Regions from separate parts of the Homo sapiens genome. Here region 1 is linked to region 2. The links come from fine-mapping of genetic effects on gene expression. A gene starts in region 2. The other region holds a variant in brackets. All regions are shown on one strand. Distances are between the middles of the regions. Region 1 has its middle 22 kb from the start of CD14. Region 2 holds the start of CD14 (CD14 molecule).

Region 1 (12,767 bases), 19 kb after region 2:
TCTTGAAGTCAGGTAGTGTCAGTCCTCCAACTTTGTTTTTCCCGTTCAATATTATGTTGGCTATTCTGAGCCTTTTGCTCGTACCGTTTTGCATAACAGCTGCACCATTTTACATTCCCACTGTCAGTGCACAATGGTTCAAATATCGCCAATATTGAACACATGCTATTTTCTGGGGTTTTAAAAAATAGTAGCCATAATAATGAGTGTGAGGAGGTATCTCATTGTGGTTTCCATTTGCATTTCCTTAACGATTTGAGACCTTGAGTTTTTTTTTTTTTTTTTGACAGAGACTCACTCTGTTGCCCAGGCTAGAGTGCAGTAGCATCATCTCCACTCACTGCAACCTCCGCATCCTGGGTTCAAGCGATTCTCCTGCTTCAGCCTCCCGAGTAGCTAAAACTACAGGCATGCACCACCACACCGGCTAATTTTTGTATTTGTATTTGTATTTATTTTGTTTTTTTGAGACAAAGCCTCACTCTGTTGCCCAGGCTGGAGTACAGGGTGCGATCTCGGCTAAATGCAACCTCAGCCCTCTACGTTCAAGCAATTCTGCCTCAGCTTCCCTAATAGCTGGGATTACAGGTGTGCACTACCACACTTGGCTAATTTTTAGTACAGACGGGGTTCTGCCATGTTGGCCAGGCTGGTCTCGAATTCCTGACCTCAAGTGATCCTCCCACCTCAGCCTCCCAAACTGCTGGGATTACAGGTGTAAGCCACCACACCCAGCCTAATTTTTGTATTTTTAGTAGAGACGGGGTTTCACCATGTTGGCCAGGCTGGTCTTGAACTCCTGACCTAAAGTGATCTGCCCACCTTGGCCTCCCAAAGTGCTGGGACTACAGGTGTTAGCCACTGCACCCAGCCAAGACCTTGAGTATCTTTCATGTGCTTATTGGTCATTTATATATCTTCTTTGGAGAAATGTTTATTCAAGTACTTTGACTTTTTTTTTTTTCTTTTTTTGCCTGAGACGGTTTGGCTTCGTAGCCTAGACTGGAGTGCAGTGGCATGATCTCGGCTCACAGCAACATCCACCTCCCAGGCTCAAGTGATCCTCCTGTCTCAGCCTCCTGAGTAGTTGGGACTACAGGTACGTGTCACCACACCTGCCTAACATTTATTTTTTGTAGAGATAGAGTTCATCATGTTACCCAGGCTGGTCTCAAACTCCTGAGCTCAAATGACCTACTTGCCTTGGCCTCCCAAAGTGCTGTGATTACAGGCATCAGTCACCATGACTGGACCTTTGCCCATTTTTTAATCATGTTGTTTTGCTGTTATTGAGTTGCAGGAGTTCTTCATATATTCTAGTTATTAACCTTTTATCAGATATATGAGTTGCAAATATTTTCTCCTATTCCATACATTGCGTTTTTACTCTGCTGATTGCATCCTTTGATGCACAGAGTCTTATTTATTTTTTAAATTTTCAATGTTTTTATTATTTAGAGACAAGGTCTCTCTGTCACTCAGGTTGGAGTGCAGTGGCGTGATCATAGCTCACTGCAACCTCAGACTCCTGGGCTCAAGCACTACTCCCACCTCAGCCTCCTAGGTAGCTAGGGCTATAGGCCGGTGTCACCATGCCCAGCTAATTTTTAAAATTTTTTTTGTAGAGATATGGTTTACTATGTTGCCCAGGCTGGTCTTGAACTCTTGAACTCAAGCAATCCTCCCGCATTGGCCTTGGCCTCTCAAAGTACTGGAATTAAAGGCATGAGCCACCATGCCTGGGCCACAAAAGTTTTAGATTTTAATGTAGTCCCTTTATCTGTTTCTACTTTTGTTGGTTGTGGTGCCATATCCAAGAAATTATTGCTAAATCTAATGAAGCTTTTTTTCACTATGCTTTCTTTCTTCTTCTTTTTTTTTTCTTGAGATGGAGTCTCGCTCTGTTGCCCAGGCTGGAGTGCAGTGGCATGGCCTCGGCTCACTGCAACCTCCACCTCCTGGGTTCAAGTGATTCTCCTGCCTCAGCCTCCTGAGTAGCTGGGATTATAGGTGCCTGCCATAACGCCTGGTTAATTTTTTGTATTTTCACTAGAGACAGGGTTTCGCCATGTTGGCCAGGCTGGTCTCGAAATCCTGACCTCGTGATCCATCTGCCTTGGCCTCCCAAAGAGCTGGGATTGCACACATGAGCCACTGCACCTAGCCTTATGTTTTCTTCTAAGAGTTTTATACTTTTTGCTCTTATAGCAATTTGATCAATTTTTAGTTAATTTTTACATATGGTATAAAGTAAAGATCCAACTTCATTCTTTTGCAGGTGAATATCTATTTTCCCCAGTGCCGTAGTATGAAAAGACTTTCTTTTATCTATTGAATAGTCTTGGCACCTTTGTCAAAATCATTTGACCACATATGTGAGGGCTTATTTCTGAGATTTCTATTCTATTCCTTGGTCTATGTGTCTGTCTTTATGCTAGTACCACACTGTTTTGATTACTGCAACTTTGTGATAAGTTTTGAAATCAGGATGTATGAGATCTCCAACTTGGTTCTTTTTTTTCCCAAGATTGTTTTGGTCATTCAGGATCCCTTGAGGTTCCATATGAATTTTGAAATGAATTTTTCCATTTCTGAAAAAAAAAGCCATTGAATTGTGCTAAGAAATGCATTGTATCTGTAGATCACTTTAGAGAGTGTTGATATCATAAAAATATTAAGACTACCAATGAACATGGATTAACTTTCTGTTTATTTGTATCTTTAATTTCTCTGAGAAACATTTTGTAGTTTTCATTGTACAAGTCTTGTCTCCTTGGTGAAGTTTATTCCTAAGTATTTTATTATTCTTTTTCATGCTATTGTAAATGAAATTGTTTTCTTAATATCCTTTTCAGATTGTTCATGGTTAATATATAGAAACAGTGATTTTTCAGTGTTGATTTTGTATCCTGCAACTTTACTAAATTTGTTTATTAGTTATAACAGGCTTTTTGGAATTTTTAGGGTTTTCTACATATAAGATCATGTCATTTACGAATGGAGATTAATTTTACTTCTTCCTTTCCAATTTGGATGCCTTCTATTTCTTTTTCCTGCCTACTTGTTCTGGCTAGGACTTACAGTGCTATGTTAAAAGAAGTATTGAAAGTACTTCCCGCTGGGCGAGGTGGCTCATGCCTGTAATCCCAGCACTTTGGGAGGCCGAGGCTGGCAGGAAATCGAGACCATCCTGGCTAACACGGTGAAACCCTGTCTCTACTAAAAATACAAAAAATTAGCCAGGCGTGGTGGCGGGCGCCTGTAGTCCCAGCTACTCGGGAGGCTGAGGCAGGAGAATGGCGTGAACCTGGGAGGCTGAGCTTGCAGTGAGCCAAGATCGTGCCACTGCACTCTCCAGCCTGGGTGACAGAGCGAGACTCTGTCTCGAAAAAAAAAAAGGAATGAAAGAAAGAAAGTACTTCCCTTGTTCATGACCTTAGAGGGAAAGCTTTCAATTTCTTACCAGTGAGTATGCTGTTACATTTGTTGTTGTTGTTGTTGTTTAAAACAGAGTTTCGCTGTTGTTGCCCACCCAGGCTGGAGTACAATGGTTTGATCTCAGCTCACTGCAACCTCTGCTTCCCGGGTTCAAGCAATTCTCCTGCTTCAGCCTCCCAAGTAGCTGGGATTACAGGCATGTGCCACCACGCCCAGCTAATTCTGTATTTTTAGTAGAGACGGGGTTTCTCCATGTTGGTCAGGCTGGTCTTGAACTCCTGACCTCAGGTTATATGCCCTCCTCAACCTCCCAAAGTGCTGGGATTACAGGCATGAGCTACTGTGCCTGGCCGCATTTGTTGTTTTTTAAGATGAGAGATGGCCGGGCTCAGTGGCTCACGCCTGTAATCCCAGCACTTCAGGAGGCCAAGGCAGGCGGATCACAAGGTCAGGAGATCCAGAACATCCTGGCTAAAACGGTGAAACCCTGTCTCTACTAAAAATACAAAAAAATTAGCTGGGCATGGTGACGGGCGCCTGTAGTCCCAGCTACTCAGGAGGCTGAGGCAGGAGAATGGCATGAACCGGGGAGGCGGATGTTGCAGTGAGCCGAGACCGCACCACTGCACTCCAGCCTGGGCGACAGAGTGAGACTCCTTCTCAAAACAACAACAACAACAACAACAAAAAAAAACGATGAGAGATGAGCCTGGTGCAGTGGCTCATGCCTGTAATCCCTGTGCTTTGGGAGGCTGAGACAGGAGGATTGCTTAAGGCCAGGAGTTTGACGTTACAATGAGCAATGAACTATGATTGCACCACTATGCTCCAGCTGGGCACAACTGTATTTAAAAATAAAAATAATAATAATAATAGAAATAGCATGATTGTATGAAGATAGAAACAGTAGACGGAAAACTTGGTGAGACAGGAGAAAAGGGAGTCCTGCTGGAGCAATGTTCTTGAGTAGATAAAAGGGACTGGTACCTAGTTCACAAGTGGAGGGATTAGTTTTAGTGTAAAAACCGAAACAGTCAATTTGTAGTCTCACTCTGCTGGAAGGCAAAGTTTCTGGGCAAAGATGCTGATGGGTAGGTGTGGCTCACTGTTTAGAATTCAACTCAGATGTCACCCCATCTGAAAGGAGCTACTCCTGCCACCATTTTTTTTTTTTTTTTTTTTTTTTTTTTTTAGTCAGAGTCTCACTCTGTTGCCAGGCTGGAGTACAGTGGCACGATCTCGGCTCACTGCAACCTCTGCCTCTCAGGTTCAAACGATTTTCCTGCTTCAGCCTCCCAAGTAGCTGGGACTACAGGTGCATGCCACCACACTCAGCTAATTTTTGTATTTTTAGTAGAGACAGGGTTTCACCATGTTGGCCAGGATGCTCTCGAGCTCTTGACCTTGTGATTGGCCTGCCTCAGCCTCCCAAAGTGCTGGGATTACAGGCATGAGCCACCGTGCCCGGCCCCTCCTGGCATCATTTCTATCCTAACATCATGCATGATTTTCTTCACAGCATTTATCTCTATCAGAAATTGTCTTCTTTATTTGTATCTTTTTTGGGTTGAAAATTCCATGAGACCAGAGATTGTGTTGCTCTTGTTCAGTTTTGTATCTCCAGCCTCTGAAGCAGTGCCTGGTACATGGCAAATGTTCCATAAATCTTCACTGATTTGATTGATTGAAGAGTGGGCTGAGGACTAGACCAAAAGGAAAGTGAGGAAACAGTGAATAGTATTTTACTTCACTAAAGTCAAGTAAAAATATTTGCTGAACTGAGTTTGAAGACCATAAACTATGTGTCATGGTTCCAGTCTCAAGGATTGTGATCTTTTGTTTTCAACTTTGTCCAGCAGTGTGGGGACAGGATTCATTCAACCAAGGTCGGAGGTCGGGGTGCAGGGCATCCTCAGAGAGGCCCTAAGATTGGGCAAGTTGGCCTGGAGCGGTGGCTCACGCCTGTAATCCCAGCACTTTGGGAGGCCGAGGCGGGTGGATCACGAGGTCGCGAGATCGAGACCATCCTGGCTAACACGGTGAAACCCCGTCTCTACTAACAATACAAAAAATGAGCCGGGCGCCGTGGCGGGCGCCTATAGTCCCAGCTACTCGGGAGGCTGAGGCAGGAGAATGGCGTGAACCCGGGAGGCGGAGCTTGCAGTGAGCCGAGATAGCACCACTGCACTCCGGCCTGGGTGAAAGAGCGAGACTCCGTCTCAAAAAAAAAAAAAAAAAAAAAAAGATTGGGCAAGTTGTGTTAATAAAGCAAGGCTGAATAATGTGCCCTAAACAGGGAAGGAAGTGAGGCAAGGAGCGGGAAATGGACTGAGAGATGCAAGGGCTCCACTTCTACATGGCACTTTGTGGTCGGATGGTTGGTGTGATGTGACAGACTTT[A/G]TGCTGAAACAGTGGAATGTTGTGGTTGTAGGACTTCCTTTTCTGATCTCAAATCAGTTTCCCTGTAAACTTCCTCTTTTGCTCCTGCTCTGTCATCTGGAATCAAAATGACATTAGTGTGTTTTTGTTGTTGTTCTACACTAAGTCAAGAGTTTTGCTCTCAAAAAAAACTTGCTCTCTCCCATCCAGTCTTCTTTTCTCCAACACAAACCCCACTTCTTCTAATGCTCAGAGCCCCTCATTTACCAGATCATGGGAGGCTCTTTATAAAACATTTAAAATCACATGTAATGGAAGACATTGAACACTGACTTGAATCTTTTAGGCTATCTAAAAATTGCTTATTCTTTTTTACATATGATATTGTGTATGATAGGTCTGATCTTGTGGTTAAGTTTAAGAAAGAATGGCTGCAAAGACATCACAAGGAAAGAAAACTACAGACCAATATGTCTTATGAGTATGGACACAAGAATCCTCAACAAAACACTAGCAAACCAAATCAAGCAACATATAAAAATAATTATGCACCATGACCAATTGGGATTTATGCCAGGAGTGCAATGATGGTTTTGACAGAGCAGGAGCACTGTCATCTTGGACAAACACTGCCACTTTAAGTTCCAGCTCCTTTTCTAACCTCATGCATTTCAAGGAAATCATTTCTATTCTAACAACAAGCAGCCACAAAGCGCAGACAGTAAAACACAGACAAGACAGCTCAGGCACAGAGGGAGAGGGGAAAATCTCCTGGGTAACCACCAAACTTCACACTCATACAATAGGCCCCAGTAAAACAGTGGGCCCTGATAAGCACATTCCTTTTCCTTTAGGTGCACTGAGATAGGGAAGCTAAAAGCAGACTGGGGGTGGCGGGAGTGATGGGAAGTATGCCTGTAGCTGCAGGAAGATGTATGGGAACAGACACAAAACTGTGCCTCCCAGATAAGCAAGACAAAGAGACACAGAAACATTCTGAGCCTATGATAAGCTCTCCTGCCCTGAACCCTTAAAAACTCTTAGTCTGGAAGAGAGAGTGGCTCTGACCTAACTTGGTTAGAAGCCCCTCTCAGGTTTATGCTCCAAAATAAACCTGTCTTTGTTGAGCTGCCTTTCATGTTTCTTTCCTCTTTAATTCTTACAGGTTTAACATCTGAAAATTAATGTAATACATCAGAAAAATAGAATTAGAAATAAAAAACCACGTGATTATTTAAATAAATGCAGAAGAAGCATTTGACAAAATTCAACACCTCTCACGAAAAAACACTCAACAAAAGGAAGGAAGGGAACTTTCTTGCATGGTAAAGGACATCTGCCAAAAAAAATCAGTTTATATCATACTTAATAGTAAAAGACTGCTTTTGCCTTAAGATCAGCAACAAAACAAGGATGTATTTTCTCACCACCTCTATTCAACATTGTACTAGAGGTTCTTGCCATGAAAATTAGTAAAAGAAATAAATGGCATCCAGGTTGAAAAGCAGGAAGTAAAATGATGTCAATTCACAGATTATATAATCACATATATTAAAAACTCCTAGTGATTCACTAAAATACATGAAAACTAATCAGCAAGTTCAGCAAGATTGCAAAATACAAAATCAATATACAAAAATCTATTGTATGTCAATACACTTAGAATGCACATTCTGAAAATTAAATTAAGTAAACAACTCTGAGCAGGTGTGGTAGCTCATGCCTGTAATCCCAGCACTTTGGTTGGCTGAGGCGGGAGAAGTGCTTCAGCCCTGAAGTTCATGACCAGCCTAGGCAACACAAGGAGACCATTGTTCCTACTAAAACTTTCTGTTTGTTTGTTTGAGACAGAGTCTTGTGCCGTCGCCAGGCTGGAGTGGAGTGGCATGATCTCAGCTCACTGCAACCTCCATCTCCTGGGTTCAAGCAATTCTCCTGCCTCAGCCTCCTGAGTAGCTGGGACTACAGGCACATGCTGCCACGCCTGGCTTTTTTTTTTTTTTTTTTTTTTTTAGTAGAAATGGGGTTTCACCATGTTGCCCAGGCTGGTCTCAAACTCCTGAGCTCAGGCAATCCGCCCACCTCAGCCTCCCAAAGTGCTAGGATTCTGGGCGTGAGCCACTGTGCCCAGACTGTTCCTACCAAAACTTAAAAAAAAAATTAGCCAGGCATGGTGGCTTGCACCTGTAGTCCCAGTTACTTGGGAGGCTGAGGTGGGAGGCTCACTTGAGCCCTGGGGCTTGAGGTTGCAGTGAGCTATGATAGTACCACTGCATTCCATCCTGGGTGACAGTGAGACTCTGTCTCAAAAAAAGAAAAAAGAAAAAAATTCCACTTGCAACAGCAGCAAAAAGAATAAAATGTTTAGGAACAAATATAACAAAAGAAGAGAAGAGCAGACTTACACTCTTAAAACTACAAAATGTTGTTGAAAGGAATTAAAGAAGATCTAAGTAAATGGAATAATATCCCATGCTCATAGATCTTATGATTGTCAAGATGACAATTCTCCCCTAATTCACCTACAGATTCAATGAAATTCTTTTTTTTTTGGTGTGTATGAGATATTGCATTATGATTAGAAATCATTTCCAGCACTTGCTTCTATGCCTGTTGCCCCATGCCCGAGGTAGGGGGCTTGGATCCAGGACAGGGTGTGGTCCTGCCCGGGGGTGGGTCCCAAACAGATGAACAGACTGGACCTCCCCTCCTTTCCAATGCCAGGGAGGCTGCTGAGGAGGACCACAAGTTCCATAATAAAATAAAGATTTTATTATGCTCACAGGGGAGGGTGGCTCATTCCTTGTGGGCAGCTGCTTTCCTCTTGGCGGCCAGGATGTTGCTCAGCTCCTCCTGCTTCCTGTTGGCACAGATGTGTGTCCCCACCCTTTTCTTGATGAACTTGAGGGCCCAGTTGTCCTTAGAAACCTCAAGCAACTCCATGGCATGCCGCTCGTTTGGGGCAAAGCCATACCCCTTTCAGGCCAGGTCTGCACAAACTCAGTGTTCTTGGTGAGGTGCCCATGGTGGTGGCGACTGAGCCTGGGCTTTCTCCTTACCCCATCATTACCTGGGCCCTTGCTGAGACCCCAGTCATGGGGTGGCACAGAGCCATGGCTACTCCTTTTCAATCTCAATGAAAGTCTTATAAGAATCCTAGCTGGTTTCTTTATAGAAATTGACAAGCTAATTGTAAAGTTTATATAGAAGTTCAATGGGTGCAGAATAGATAAAACAACCTTGTAAAAGAAGAGCAAAGTTGGAGGACTCACACTTCCTGATTTCAAAACATTATTGCAAAGCAACAGTAACTAAGACAGTGTGGTAGTAGCATAAGGATAAGCAGACAGATCAATGGAATAGAAGTGAGAGTTCAGAAATATACCCACATGTCTATGGGAAACTTATTTTGACAAGGTTGTCAAGAACATCCAGTAAGGAAACACTAGTTTCAACTAATGGCAAAGGGACACCTGGATATCCATATGCAGATGTATGAAGTTGGACCCTTACCTCAAATCATATACAAAAATTAATTCCACATTAATTGATTACCTAAATGTAAGAGCCAAAACCATAAAGCTCTTAGAAGAAAACACAGAAACTAATCTTTGTGGCCTTTGATTTAGCAGTGGATTATTAGATATGACTCCAAAAGCCTGAGCAACAAAATAAATAATAATAAACTGGAATTCAAAATTAAAAGCTTTTGTGCATCAAAAGGCATTACCAAATAAAGTGAAAAGACAACCTACAAAATGGGAGAAAATGTTGCAAATTATATACCTGGTAATGGTTTACTACCCAGAGTTTATATAGGATTCCTACAACTCGGCAACAAAAAGGCAAACAAATCAAGTAAAAATATGGGAAAAGGGCTTGAATAGCCATTTCTCCAAAGGCACACAAATGCCTGAAAGTCCATGAAAAGATGCTCAACATTATTATTCATTAGTAAAATACCAAAAACAAACAGGCAAATTAAAACCTGGGCAAAGAACTTGACTGAACATTGCCACAAAGAAATTATAATAAATGACTAACAAACATAAGAAAAGATGCTCAAAATCATTGGCCATTAAGGTAATGCAAACCAAAAACACAATGAGAGGCTGGGCGCAGTGGCTCACGCATGTAATCCCAGCACTTGGAGAGGCCGAGGCGGGCAGATCATTTCAGGTCAGGATTTCGAGACCAGCCTGGCCAACATAGAGAAACCCTGTCTTTACCAAAAATACAAAAATTAGCCAGGCCTGGTGGTGAGTGCCTGTAATCCCAGCTACTTGGGAGGCTGAGGCAGGAGAATCACTTCAACCTGGGAAGCGGAGGTTGCAGTGAACCGAGATTGCGCCATTGCACTCCAGCCTGGGCAACAGAGAGAGACCCTGTCTCAGAAAAAAAAAAAAAAGAAAATAGAAAAGCCACAATGAGATACCACTTCACACTCACTAGTATAGCACTAATCAACAACAATAAAAAAAATTGGAAACAAGTGTTGGCAAGAAGGTGGAGAAGAAGGAACCCTCATAAATTTTCGGTGGGAATGTGATATGGTACAGCCACTGTGGAAAATAATTTAGCAGTTTGTCAAAAAGTTAAATATATAATTAATTTTACCATATAATCCAATAATTGTACTCCTCATTATATACCCAAAAGAATTGGAAAGGCATATCCAAACAAAATTTTGTACCAAAATGTTCATATCAACACTATACACTATAGCTAAAACATGGAAATGATTCAAGTGTCCACTAGTGGATAAATGAATACATAAAATGTGGTATACACAGACAACGGAATATTATTTAGCCACAGAAAGTAATGACGTCTGATACATGTTACAACATAGATAAACCTTGACAACATTATGCTAAGTGAAATAAGCCAGACACAAAAAGGCAAATATTGTATGATTCCACTTATGCTGAGTATCTATAATAGGTAAGCTTAGTCAGATGGTAAGTAGATTAAAGGTTAATGGGTTCTAGAGGGAGAGGAGACAGGGAGTTATTGCATAATGGGTACAGAGTTTCTGTTTAGGATGATGAAAAGCATTGTAAATAGTAGCAATGGTTGCACAATATTGTGAATGCAATTAATACCACTGTATTTATTATACACTTAAAAATGGCCAAAATAGCAAATTTTATTTTAAACAGTAGTCTATAAGGTTTTTTCCATTATTATTATTATTATTTTTTTTTTTTACTTTTTAAACTATTTTGTTAAAAACTAAGACACAAACCACACACATTAGCCCGGGCCTACACAGAGTCAAGCTCATCAACATCGTTGTATTCCACCCCCACATCTTGTCCCACTGGAAGGTCTTCAGGGGCAATTAATAAGCATGGAGCTGTCATCTTCAGCCTCCCGAGTAGCTGGGACTACAGGCGCATGCCACCATGCCCAGTTAATTTCTTTTGTATTTTAGTAGAGACAGGGTTTCACCGTGTTGCCCAGGTTGGTCTCGAACTCCTGAGCTTGGGCAATCTGCCTGCCTCGGCCTCCCAAAGTGCTAGGATTACAGGCGTGAGCCACCACACCCAGCTGGGCAATAGAGATTTTTCTGCTCCATTATAATCTAATGGGACCACCCTTGTTTATACTGTTCAAGTTTGACCAAAACATTATTATGTGGTGCATGACTATGTATATATTGCCAGAATTAAAATTAAAAATTAGAGCATAGATAAACAAAATAAGGAATGGAAAAAATAGAAAATCGGTAAAACCAAGAGTTGGTTCTTTTAAAAGATCAACAAAATTGACAAACCTTTAGTCTGAGAAAAAAAAGAAAGTACAAATAACTAAAATCAGAAATGAAAGTACCAGCCTGGGCAACATAGACAGACCCCATCTCTACAATTTTTTTGTTTATTTAGCCAGGCCTGGTGGCACACATCTGTGGTCCTAACTACTTGGGAGGCTAAGGCAGGAGGAGTGCTTGAGCCCAGGAGTTCAAGGCCGCACACCACTGCACTCCAGCCTGGGTGACAGAATGAGACCCTGGAAAAAAAAAAAAGAGGAAAGAAAGAGAGAGGGAGGAAGGAAGGAAGGAAGGGGAAAAGGAAAAGGAAAGGAAAGGGAAGGAAAAGAAGGGGGGGAAGGGGGAGGGAGGGAGGGAAGGAAGAAGGAAGGTTAATTAAAGTGGAACATTACTACTGACCTTACAGAAATTAAAACGATTGAAAGAAAATATTTTGAACACGATATGCCAACAAATTAGGTAATCTAGATGAAATGGACAAATTCCTAGGACACACTTATTGCCAAAACTGCCTCAACAACATATTTATAACAAGAGATTGAATCAGTAACCAAAAATCTCACAACAAAAAAAAGTTCAAGACCAGATAGCTTCACTGGTGAATTCTACCAAATATTAAAAAGACTTAATGCCAATCTTACTTAAACTCTTTCAAAAAACAGAAAAGGAGGAAACATCTTCTTTCTTTGTGTGTGTGTGTGTGTGTGTGTGTGTGTGTGTGTGTGTGTGTGTGTTTTGTTTTTTTTTGAGACAGAGTCTCGCTCTGTAACCCAGGCTGGAGTGCAACGACGAGATCTCAGCTCACTGCAACCTCTGCCTCCTGGATGCAAGCGATTCTCCTGCCTCAGCCTCCCAAGTAGCTGGGATTACAGGCACCCACCACCATGCCCAGCTAATTTTTGTATTTTTAGTAGAAATGGGGTTTCACTGTGTTGGTCAGGCTGGTCTCGAACTCCTGACCTCAGGTGATGCACCCGCCTCAGCCTCCCAAAGCACTAGGATTACAGGCGTGAACCACCACACCTGGCCTAAAGATGCCACTTTTACCACTTATATTTACTACCGTACCAGAAGTTTTAGCCAGAGAAACTAGGCAAGAAAAATAAATAAATAAAGGCATCCAATTTGGAAAGGAAGAAGTAAAATTGTATTTGCATATGATATGATTCTATAAATA
Region 2 (12,767 bases):
TCAGAACCATTGTACCAATGACCCAGCTTCTTCACAACCCTTTTCACAGCTATCATTAAGTTATAGTGTAATTATTTGATGTTGTCTCCTCCCAGACCCCCTTGGCAGCTCCAGAAGATTAGGGTCCCGGTGGCACCTAAGAATTTTTACAGGAAACCTCTAATTTTTAAAAAGCCATATAACTTAGGCAAAGGTTCAATTAAGTACAAATCTAGGAAAAAGGTTATTCTTAAAACCAATTTCTTTCCCTTGAACTTAATTCTACCCCTTGGAGTTAATCAATGAAGTCTGCAATCTCTTCCACAAAACAGCATGTTAAAATATCTACAGGCCATCATTCCATCCTCCATATCTTCTCTCCCAGTATCCATCCAGCCCCTGGAGAGCCATTTACTGAGTACCTGCTGTGCACCATGCTCTGGCCAGGGATAGGGCCTGGATCTTGAGCCCTTCCTCATGCAACTGTCTGGCTTCTTTTTTTAATTTTTTAATTAAAAAAAATTTATTTTCTTATTTCCCCAAGAAAAACTTTTTTATTTTTATTTTATTTATTTATTTTTTTTTTTGAGCCAGGGTCTTGCTCGGTTGCCCACGCTGCAGTGCAGTAGTGCAATCATGGCTTATCACAGCCTGGAACTCAGCCTTAAATGATCCTTTCAGCTTGGCCTCCCAAAGTGCTAGAATTACTGGCATGAGCCACTGCACCTAACCCAGGCTAGCTTCTAAGACCCACACTTGGCCCAGCAAGGTGGCTCATGCCTATAATCCCAGCACTTTGGGAGATGGAGGCAGGTGGATCACCTGAGGTCAGGAGTTCGAGACCAGCATGACCAACATGGTGAAACCCCGTCTCTACTAAAAATGCAAAATTAACCAGGTGTGGTGGCACGTGCTTGTAATCCCAGCTACTCAGGAGACTGAGGCAGGAGACTCGCTTGAACCCAGGAGGTGGAGGTTGCGATGAGCCAAGATTGCATCATTGCACTCCAGCCTGGGCAACAAGAGTGAAACTCCATCTAAAACAACAACAATAACAACAACAACAAAACCCACATGTGCTCCAGGTGGGGAAGATGAAAAAAGTTCCCAGCCAAAAGCTATATTCTGCCCAGTGTCTGCTCAGACAGCTACAGCTGCCCAAATTGCCTTTCTGTATCTACCTGTCTAGCAACACTGTTAACCCTGTAAGAACCAGCCCCATGTCCTGTCTTGTACAGGGCTGGCTGTTCCTTTCTCCAGACCATGTTCCTCCCCTCCACCCCTCTCCCCCAACAACACAAGCCTTTGGTTTCTCTTCTTTTAAGAGCCCTCTGCACTATGGACGGAAGTTCTGGGTTCATGTTTGCTCTACCCACCTCCTGGAGCACTTCAGGGACTTGTCTTTGTCATGTCTGTGTCCCAGGGCTTTCTACCAACCCTAGTACTCGGTAGACAAATGATAGACATTTGTTGAATCAAGCTGTGAGTTGGAGATCTTTGCAGAACCATCACTGCCCCTCTTAACTTGGAACTCCCCACCCAGAGTGCCTCCCCTAAGATGATGAGGTGTCAGACTTCAGTGGCCTGAGTTCTCTGAAAGCAGAGACTCTGAGAAAGAAGACTAGTCATCAAGACCACACTAAAAAGATGTGTTTCTGTGCCAAAGACTTTACTCACAAACAGGTAATACTATCATCTCCATTTTACAGAAGGGAGGCCCAAGTCTCATAACCTCAGTCGTAAAGCTGGGATTCCAAGACTGGCTATCTGACTTTGAGTCAGATATAATCATATCTTGGTCCTCAGGGATATCACAGAGGCCTGGCATGGCACCAGGGCATGGCCCAGTGCATTGGGGTATGCCCAACAGGACCCGCAGGGGGCAGTGATGAGCCTTCTTGTTTGGATTGGGGACAAATCTGCAGCTACTTCTTTCTCAATTAAAGAGGAAGTGGGAATTTAAAAAAGACTTTCTGCCGGGCACGGTGGCTCATGCCTGTAATCCCAGCACTTTGGGAGGCCGAGGCAGGTGAATCACCTGAGGTCGGGAGTTCGAGACCAGCCTGACCAACATGGAGAAACCCCATCTCTACTAAAAATACAAAATTAGCCGGGTGTAGTGGCACATGCCTGTAATCCCAGCCGCTCGGGAAGCTGAGGCAGGAGAATTGCTGGAACCTGGGAGGCGGAGATTGCAGTGAGCTGAGATCGCGCCCAGCCTGGGCAACAAGAACAAAACTCCGTCTCAAATAAATAAATAAAAGTAAAAAAGACTTTCAGGCCGGGTGTGGTGGCTCTCGCCTGTAATCCCAGCACTTTGAGAGGCCAAGGCGGGCGGATCACCTGAGGTCAGGAGTGCCTGGTCAACATAGTGAAACTCTGTCTCTACTAAAACTACAAAAATTAGCCGGGCATGGTGGTGGGCTCCTGTAATCCCAGCTACTCAGGAATCTGAGGCAAGAGAATTGCTTGAACTTGGGAGGCGGAGGTTGCAGTGAGCCAAGATCACGCCACTGCACTCCAGCCTGGGCAACAGAGCCAAACTCAGTCTCAAAAAAAAAAAAAAAAAAAAAGACTTTCATATAGTTCTTTCCCCAGAGGTCTAGGGATGTGGACCTGTGAGGGCTGTTGTAAATGCGTAGCTCCTTATTCTCTGGGACATTTGTTGTTTTTTTGTTTTGTTTTGTTTGCTGTTTTTTTCATTTTGTTTTGTTTTCTGTTTTTGTCTGTTTTTTGCGAAACTGGTGAGTTACTAATTAATCCTCATTCAACATAGTCCCATCCCTTCCTTCCTAGGGCACAGAGATTGTACTGAGGGGAGGGCAGGAGAGAGCAACGTGCAAGTGGGAAAACTGATTCAAAATACCTTGCTTCACAATTTCAGGACAGAAAATGGATAGTGTAAGTGACCCAGAGACTTGGCCAATGTGTCTCTGTTAAATACATCCACTTTTAAGAAAGTTAGTACTGCCAGGCACAGTGGCTCACGCCTGTAATCCCAGCACTTTGGGAGGCCGAGGCGGGTGGATCACAAGGTCAGGAGTTCAAGACCAGCCTGGCCAAGATGATGAAAACCTGTCTCTACTAAAAAATACAAAAATTAGCTGGGTGTGGTGGTGGGCACTTGTAATCCCAGCTACTCGGGAGGCTGAGGCAGAGAATTGCTTGAACCCAGGAGGCGGAGGTTGCAGTGAGCCGAGATCATGGCACTCTACTCCAGCCTGAGCAACAGAGCAAGACTCTATCTCAAAAAAAAAAAAAAAAAAGAAAGAAAGTTATTACTTAATCAAAGGAGCAAGGAAAAAAAAAGGAAGGGGGAATTTTTCTTTAGACCAACTTCCTTTTCTTGAACCTAATTCTACCCCCCTTGGTGCCAACAGATGAGGTTCACAATCTCTTCCACAAAACATGCAGTTAAATATCTGAGGATATTCAGGGACTTGGATTTGGTGGCAGGAGATCAACATAAACCAAGACAAGGAAGAAGTCAAAGAAATGAATCAAGTAGATTCTCTGGGATATAAGGTAGGGGGATTGGGGGGTTGGATAGTGCAGAGTATGGTACTGGCCTAAGGCACTGAGGATCATCCTTTTCCCACACCCACCAGAGAAGGCTTAGGCTCCCGAGTCAACAGGGCATTCACCGCCTGGGGCGCCTGAGTCATCAGGACACTGCCAGGAGACACAGAACCCTAGATGCCCTGCAGAATCCTTCCTGTTACGGTCCCCCTCCCTGAAACATCCTTCATTGCAATATTTCCAGGAAAGGAAGGGGGCTGGCTCGGAGGAAGAGAGGTGGGGAGGTGATCAGGGTTCACAGAGGAGGGAACTGAATGACATCCCAGGATTACATAAACTGTCAGAGGCAGCCGAAGAGTTCACAAGTGTGAAGCCTGGAAGCCGGCGGGTGCCGCTGTGTAGGAAAGAAGCTAAAGCACTTCCAGAGCCTGTCCGGAGCTCAGAGGTTCGGAAGACTTATCGACCATGGTGAGTGTAGGGTCTTGGGGTCGAACGCGTGCCACTCGGGAGCCACAGGGGTTGGATGGGGCCTCCTAGACCTCTGCTCTCTCCCCAGGAGCGCGCGTCCTGCTTGTTGCTGCTGCTGCTGCCGCTGGTGCACGTCTCTGCGACCACGCCAGAACCTTGTGAGCTGGACGATGAAGATTTCCGCTGCGTCTGCAACTTCTCCGAACCTCAGCCCGACTGGTCCGAAGCCTTCCAGTGTGTGTCTGCAGTAGAGGTGGAGATCCATGCCGGCGGTCTCAACCTAGAGCCGTTTCTAAAGCGCGTCGATGCGGACGCCGACCCGCGGCAGTATGCTGACACGGTCAAGGCTCTCCGCGTGCGGCGGCTCACAGTGGGAGCCGCACAGGTTCCTGCTCAGCTACTGGTAGGCGCCCTGCGTGTGCTAGCGTACTCCCGCCTCAAGGAACTGACGCTCGAGGACCTAAAGATAACCGGCACCATGCCTCCGCTGCCTCTGGAAGCCACAGGACTTGCACTTTCCAGCTTGCGCCTACGCAACGTGTCGTGGGCGACAGGGCGTTCTTGGCTCGCCGAGCTGCAGCAGTGGCTCAAGCCAGGCCTCAAGGTACTGAGCATTGCCCAAGCACACTCGCCTGCCTTTTCCTGCGAACAGGTTCGCGCCTTCCCGGCCCTTACCAGCCTAGACCTGTCTGACAATCCTGGACTGGGCGAACGCGGACTGATGGCGGCTCTCTGTCCCCACAAGTTCCCGGCCATCCAGAATCTAGCGCTGCGCAACACAGGAATGGAGACGCCCACAGGCGTGTGCGCCGCACTGGCGGCGGCAGGTGTGCAGCCCCACAGCCTAGACCTCAGCCACAACTCGCTGCGCGCCACCGTAAACCCTAGCGCTCCGAGATGCATGTGGTCCAGCGCCCTGAACTCCCTCAATCTGTCGTTCGCTGGGCTGGAACAGGTGCCTAAAGGACTGCCAGCCAAGCTCAGAGTGCTCGATCTCAGCTGCAACAGACTGAACAGGGCGCCGCAGCCTGACGAGCTGCCCGAGGTGGATAACCTGACACTGGACGGGAATCCCTTCCTGGTCCCTGGAACTGCCCTCCCCCACGAGGGCTCAATGAACTCCGGCGTGGTCCCAGCCTGTGCACGTTCGACCCTGTCGGTGGGGGTGTCGGGAACCCTGGTGCTGCTCCAAGGGGCCCGGGGCTTTGCCTAAGATCCAAGACAGAATAATGAATGGACTCAAACTGCCTTGGCTTCAGGGGAGTCCCGTCAGGACGTTGAGGACTTTTCGACCAATTCAACCCTTTGCCCCACCTTTATTAAAATCTTAAACAACGGGTCCGTGTCATTCATTTAACAGACCTTTATTGGATGTCTGCTATGTGCTGGGCACAGTGCTGGATGGGGAATTCATCATACTTAGGCTTTCTTCATCCTAACTCCCTAAGAAACCCTATCTGTCCTCCTCAAGAAAAGAACTGCGGGGATAGAAGGAGCCAGGAAAGGACTCCTGGCTAGGGCTGCATGGGAGAAACAATGAGTGTGCAGTCAGGGCTTTCTGAGCAGATTATTGGCATCTGGATTAAAAGGTATTTGCATGATATTTGGAAGATACAAAATATTTCCTCTCCTATGCACTTCCCAAGAGCCAGCTGCTCCCTTTCAAAGGTAATAAAACCCACAGCCATTTGCTTATTTCCTTATTCTTTCTCTCTCTCACACACACACACACTCACACACCCTCCCTCTCCCTCTCTGTCTGTCTCCCTTACCACTCAAGGAAGAGGGACAGCCTCCTATCCTGCACAAGCTCTGAGTTTCATAATATTAGGGTTCCTCTCTTGTAAAACCTCTCTTCACCCGGAGGCTTTCACTGTGTCACTCCCCGACATAATGGGAAATTTGGGCCTAGGGAACTGACGCAAGATACAGTCGGTCTCTGAATTAGAGATCCTGTGTTCTGTTAGAACACATATGCAGATAACCTTTTCAGGCTGACTGATTGGCAAATAGGAAAGCATCTCAGACTCTTCAAAACTTCAGAATAAACAGGATTTGTCCTCTAGTCCACATTAGCTCAGAGACCTACAGCATCAGCCATCAAGAGGTGCTGTTTCTTCTGAGCCCCTTCTTCATTTCAATGAGGAGGCAGCCACATCCATCAGAGAGCTAGATGCCTGCCTCACAGGGAGCATGGGAGAAAGGTGGGAGGAGGCATATAGGCCCAGCACCTGCCTCTGGCCAATGTCCAGAGCCACACAGATAGGAATAGGGAATGGAAATTAACATTGATAAGAGAGTTACAGACATTACCAGAACCAGACTCAAAATATGTCAGAAAACAGTTAAATTAGCTGGACACTCACTGGAATGTCCCCAAGGGGCCTTCAACCAGCCAGTTGAGAGATTTCTAGTATCAGAGAATTAATCATCTCAAGGCAGTTTTTTTCTTCCCTTGAATAGCTCTGATCACACTTCATCAAATGGTTACAGAACCACATTTCACCTCAGGCCTTGTGCTAAAGCCTGAAATACAAAGATGAATCAGAAACATCCATGCCCTTAGGGAATTCCAATCCAGTGGGGGTCGGGGGAACACATAAAAGATAGTTTTTTATGTGTGAGAAATAGCTGTGAGAATATATATAAATTTCTGTTGGTTAAGCCACCAGTCTATGGTATTTTATTACGGTAGCCTGAGCTGACTAAGGCAGTAGTGGTGATGTAACATATCTGATTGCAAAAAAAAAAATTTTTTTTAAAGAGTAATATATCTGGGCCAGGTGTGGTGGCTCATGCCTATAATCCCAGCACTTTGGGAGGCTGAGGTGGGCGGATCACGAGGTCAAGAGATCGAGTCCACCCTGGCTAACATGATGAAACCCTGTCTCTACTAAAAATACAAAAATTAGCCGGGTGTGGTGGCATGTGTCTGTAATCCCAGCTACTCAGGAGGCTGAGGCAGGAGAATTGCTCACTAGAACCTGGGAGGCAGAGGTTGCAGTGAGCCAAGATCACGCCACTGCACTCCAGCCTGAGCGAAAGAGTGAGACTCCGTCTCAAAAAAAAAAGGGAGCAGATATTGTTGAGGATTGATATGTTATACAGGTTGACTATCCTTTTTTTTTTTTTTTTGAGGCAGAGTTTCACTCTTGTTGCCCAGGCTGGAGTGCAATGGCGCAATCTCAGCTCACTGCAACCTCCACCTCCCAGGTTCAAGCAAATCTCCTGCCTCAGCCTCCCAAGTAGCTGGGATTATAGGCATGCACCACCACACCTGGCTAATTTTGTATTTTTCGTAGAGACAGGGTTTCTCCGTGTTGGTCAGGCTGGTCTTGAACACCCAACCTCAGGTGATCTGCCTGCCTCGGGCTCCCAAAGTGCTGGGATTGCAGGCATGAGCCACCACACCCAGCCAGGTTGACTATCCTTTATCCAAAATGCTCCAGACCAGAAGTTTTGGATTTTTTCAGATTTTGGAATATTTGCGTATATATAATGAGATAGATTTGGATGGGACCCAAGTCTGAATACAAAATTCATTTATGTTTCATATACACTTTAGATAATAGCCTGAAGATAACTTTATACAATATTTTTGTCATGATTCCCTAAACAATATAGTATAACAACTATTTACATAGCATTTACATTGTATTAGGAATTATAAGTAATCTAGAGATGATTTAAAGCATGTGGGAGATGTATGTAGGTTATGTGCAAATACTGCAACATTTTATTTATTTATTATTATTATTTTTTTTAGTTTTTTGGGTTTTGTTTGTTTTGTTTTGTTTTTTGAGACAGAGTCTCTCTCTGTCACCTAGGCTGGAGTGCAGTGGTTTGATCTCAGCTCACTGCAACTTCTGCATCTGGGGTTCAAGTGATGCTCCTGCCTCAGCCTTCTGAGTAGCTGGGATTACAGGCATGCACTACCACACCCTGCTAATTTTTGTATTTTTAGTAGAGACAGGGTTTCACCATGTTGGCCAGGCTAGTTGTGAATTCCTGACCTCAGGTAATCCACCTGCCTCTGCCTCCCAAAGTGCTGGGATTACAGGCATAAGCCACTGCACCCAACCTAAAGTTTTAACTGTTTGGATTGTAACCCATCACATATCCAGGATATGAATCATCCCTTTGTACAGTGTATCTACACTGTAGGCACTACTAGCTCGTTAGTAACTTAGGAGCTGTCTGGGTTGTCAGATCAACAGTTACCATATAGCAGTGCCTGTGTTCAGTAACCCTTATTTTACTTAATAATGGACCCCCAGCACAAGAATAGTGATGCCCACAATTCAGATATGCCAAGAAAAGCCATAAAATGGCTGGGCATGGTGGCTCATGCCTGTAATCTCAGCACTTTGGAAGGCCGAGGTGGGTGGCTCACTGGAGGTCTCCAGACTTCAAGACCAGCCTGGCCAACATGGTGAAACCTGTCTCTACTGCAAATACAAAAATTAGCCAGATGTGGTGGTGTGCTCCTGTAATCCCAGCTATTTGGGAGGCTGAGGCAGGAGAATCACTTGAACCTGGGAGGTAGAGGTTGCAGTGAGCTGAGATCTCACCACTACACTCTAGCCTGGGTGACAGAGTGAGACTCTGTCTCAAAAAAAAAAGAAAAGAAAAGAAAAGCCGTAAAGTGCATCTGTCAGAGGCATTCAAATCAGAGCAACTCCATCTTGAACAGGGGCTGGATAAAATGAGACTGAGACCTGCTGGGCCGCAATTTCAGGAGGTTAGGTATCTTAGTCACAAGTTTACATTTCAGGGAACAGAAACAGACCTAAGAAAGAGGGAAATATAGGACAAGTCAGAATATCCAAGCATGTCATAGATGGTCTGTGTAAGTTGTGATAGGTTTCATAAAATGGGAAAAAATATATATATATAGCTGGGTGTGGTGGCGCATGCCTCTAATCCCAGCTACTCCAGAGGCTGAGGCAGGAGAATCACTTGAATCTGGGAGGCGGAGGTTGTGGTGAGCCGAGGTTGCGCCACTGCACTCCAGCGTGGGCAACAAGAGTGAAACTCTGTCTCAAAAAAAAAAAAAAGATAGTCAACCTGTATACATATCAATCCTCAACAACAATATCTGCTCCCTTTCTCTGTTTTACTTGTCTTCACAGCATATTGCAATCAGATATGTTACTTGTTTTTTTTATTTTTTGAGATGGAGCCTCACTCTGTCACCCAGGCTGGAGTGCAGTGGCAGAATCTTGACTCACTGCAACCTCTGCCTCCCAGGTTCAAGTGATTCTCCTGCCTCAGCCTCCTGAGTAGCTGGGACTACATGCGCCCGCCACCACACCTGGCTAATCTCAAAAAAAAAAAAGAAAAGAAAAATGTAAAAACTGGCAAATGAAAAAGCTTACAATAACTGGATCTTCTTCTGTCTGTCTATTTACATATGTTGTGTGTGTGTAATGTTTATATAAAAGAGCTCTAATTAATTGGCTTAAAGAAAAAGCACTTAAATATTTTGTCAGAAAAATTAAAACTTTAATGCCTTTTAGTTCATATGACTTTAGTAATCCTTGGGAAATAAAGACAGTTTTAAAGATTATTGGTAAAATAAAAATGTCTTCAAAATTTATACATTTGGTCTAAATTAGGCAGGTCAGACACTGAGTTTACTAAACTACATAAACTGCTTCCTTGATATGATCATTGTTCAACTTACCTGCTTTGGAACCATTAGATTCTAGGTAATGCCTAGAGACATGTGGAGTTAGCCATGCCCTCTAGCTATGCTGGAAAGATCAGACCTTATCTGCACTTCTGTCTGGTGTCCTAGGCTCCACACCTGGTACATAATTAAAATTGCTTACTTACCAGGTTTTTCACCAAAAAAAAAAAAAAGTTGCTGAGACGTAACATTGTAACATATGCAATTGAGACTAGTAGAGAAACAGTTTTACATGGAAAGTGCGTAAGGAAAGTGAATGTGTTTTTGGCAAAAGATTATAAGAAGGCACAGGAATGTGGATTTTTTTTTTGCCTAGTTTAGGGGGTTAAAGTATTATTTTAAGTTGGATAGGGAAAAGTAGAAGCTTTGAGCAAGTTGTGGCAGGTTTATGAAATATAAATTCTGTCTGTGGACATACTGGCTAAAGTTAAAGGGGTATTCAATTTTTCCATAAATTGAACATTGGAATAAAAGCACAATAGAGTTTTCTTAGAGCACTGATCTGCTCTTTAACAGTAAAATATAGGCTGGGCACTTTGGCTCATGCCTGTAATCCTAGCACTTTGGGAGGCCAAGGCAGGAGGATTGCCTGAGGTCAGGAGTTCAAGACCAGCCTGGGCAACATGGCAAAACCCCATCTCTACTAAACATACAAAAAATTAGCATGACATGGTGGCATGGTGGCAGAGGTGCAGCAAGCCAAGATCACAGAGTGAGACTCTGTTTCAAAAATAAAAATAAAAAAAGAAATGATAATAGATAGAGACACAAAGATTTGTGGCTGCTTAGAAGTGGGGTGGTCAAGGGGAATGACCTCTAATGGGATACAATGCCTGTAATCCCAGACACTTGGGAGGCTGAGCCAGGAGAATCACTTGAACCCAGGAGGCAGAAGTTACAGTAAGCTGAAAGCATGCCACTGCACTCCAGCCAGGGTGACAAAGTGAGATTCTGTCTTAAAAAATAAAGAAAAAATATATAAAGGGTAATAAAAGGTTTATGAGACTCTTACCTTATGGTCAAACTGATTAAAATTGGATATCTTTTTCTATAAGGTTTTATTAAGAATTGGGTTTGACATTAATAGTACACCATTGCATTCCAGCCTGGGTGATAGAGCAAGACTCCATCTCAAAAAAAAAAGAAGACTGGGCATAGGTTGCTTAGAGCCACTCACAGGTGGACAGTCCAGTAGGCAGTTAGCCATAGGGGCTAGAGCTTAGGGGACAGGTTTGGCCTGGCTATAAGAATTTGGGAGCCATCAGTGTAGAAATGCCTGTGGAAACCGTAGCCATGAATAGCCATGAGTAAGTTCACCCAGGCCAGGAGGGGAGAAAGAAGAGACCGTGCTAAAGAAGGAAACTGGGAATCATCAGTCAACATTTCAGGATGGAGAAAGCAGGGTCTTCAAAGGAGACAGAGAAATAGGAAGAGAACTTAGAACTTGAGACAGAGAACATAGGGAGACATGGTCAGCAACTCCCTATGCCTCCTCTACTGTCATCTCCACCTTGTAAACCAACATCACCCCCAACATATTCTAGCCATTCTTTCCTTTGCCTCTTGTTCTTCCCTCTGCCTGGAATGTTCTGGTCATTAATTTATTCATCCATTTAACAATTATTTATTGAGCTCCCACTACCTGACAAGCACTTTGGAAGTGCTGAGGACAAAGCACTTATAGTGAGCAAAGCGACAAAAGTTCCTGCTCTTAAAGTGTTCATATTGCAGTGGGGAGAAGAAAGTATAAAGTGCTAGATGATGGTAAGTGCTGTGGGGAAAATAGAGCTGAGCCAAAACAGTCAGGATTGCTGGGCATAAGGGTGAAGGATTGCAAGTTTATAGTTGTTAGAATAGACCTCACATGAGGTGACTTCTGAGCAAAGATTTAAGGGAGGTGAGAGAGTGAGCCTTGTAGTTATCTGCTGGAAGAGCAGTCCAGGAAGAGGAAACATCCAGTACAAAGGCCCTGGAAGACATTGGCAATGATATCAGAGAGATAGCAAGTGGCCTCAATTGTTGTTTAAGGCTCACAGGCCACTGTGAAGCTTGGTTTTCACTCAGGTGAAATAGAGAGCCACCTGAGGATACTGACAAAGGGTAACATAAACTGGTTTCCATTTTTAAAGGATCACATTAGCTGCTGTGTTGAAAGTAAACTATAGAGAGTAAGTTAGAAGACTCGTTGGGAATTTATACCAATAACCCAGTCAAGAAATGATGGAGGCCGGGTGCAGTGACTCACGCCTGTAATCCTGGCACTTTGGGAGGCCAAGGCGGATGTATTATGAGGTCAGGAGTTTGAGATCAGCCTGGCCAAGACGGTGAAACCCCGTTTCTACTAAAAATACGAAAATTAGCCAGGCGCGGTGCCAAGCGCCTGTAATCCCAGCTACTCAGGAGGCTGAGGCAGAAGAATCACTTGTACCTGGGAGGCAGAGGTTGCAGTGAGCCAAGATCATGCCACTGTACTCTAGCCTGGGCACAGAGCAGGACTCCATCTCAAAAAAAAAAAAAAAAGAAAGAAAGAAAGAAAGAAATGATGGTGAGGTTGGGTGCAGTGACTCATGCCTGTAATACCAGCATTTTGAGAGGCCAAAGTGGGTGGATCACTTGAGGTCAGGAGTTCGAGACCAGCCTGGCCAATATGGCAAAACCCTGTCTCTACTGAAAATACAAAAAAAAATTAGCCCCAGCTACTCGGGAGGCTGAGGTGCAAGAATCACTTGAACCTGGGAGGCAGAGGTGCAGCGAGCCAAGATCACAGAGTGAGACTCCGTTTCAAAAATAAAAATAAAAAAAGAAATGATGATAGATAGAGACACAAAGATTTGTGGTTGCTTAGAAGTGGGGTGGTCAAGGGGAATGACCTCTAATGGGATACAGAATTTCTTTTTGGGGTGATAAAAATGTTCTAAAATTAAAGCGCGGTTATAGTTACACAACTCTGGTAATATAATAAACACCACTAAATTGAATACTTTATTTATTTATTTATTTATTCATTTATTTTGAGATGGAGTCTCACTCTGTTACCCAGGCTGGAGTGCAAAGGTGTGATCTCGGCTCCTGCAACCTCCGCCTCCCAGGTTCAAGTGATTCTCCTGCT

Evidence for each region. PIP is the estimated chance that this variant, and not a neighbour inherited with it, causes the effect.
Region 1: its variant is the best candidate, but not a certain one, in a credible set for the expression of CD14 in whole blood (TOPMed, PIP 0.58).

The regions. Positions count from the first base shown.
Region 1 is chr5:140,605,250-140,618,016 of GRCh38, reverse strand. It overlaps a transcript of TMCO6 not described here and the pseudogene RPL36P11. Among named protein-coding and RNA genes, the nearest start is that of CD14, 22 kb to the left of the region's middle. The variant A/G (reference allele first, on the strand shown) is at 5,839.
Region 2 is chr5:140,624,268-140,637,034 of GRCh38, reverse strand. It overlaps CD14 (CD14 molecule), which reads left to right and starts at 3,860. Exons shown (of 2, transcript NM_000591.4): 1 at 3,860-3,966; 2 at 4,055-5,303. The coding sequence starts at 3,964. The coding sequence ends at 5,179. It also overlaps a transcript of TMCO6 not described here. RefSeq lists enhancers at 4,216-4,715, 4,928-4,987, 4,716-5,217.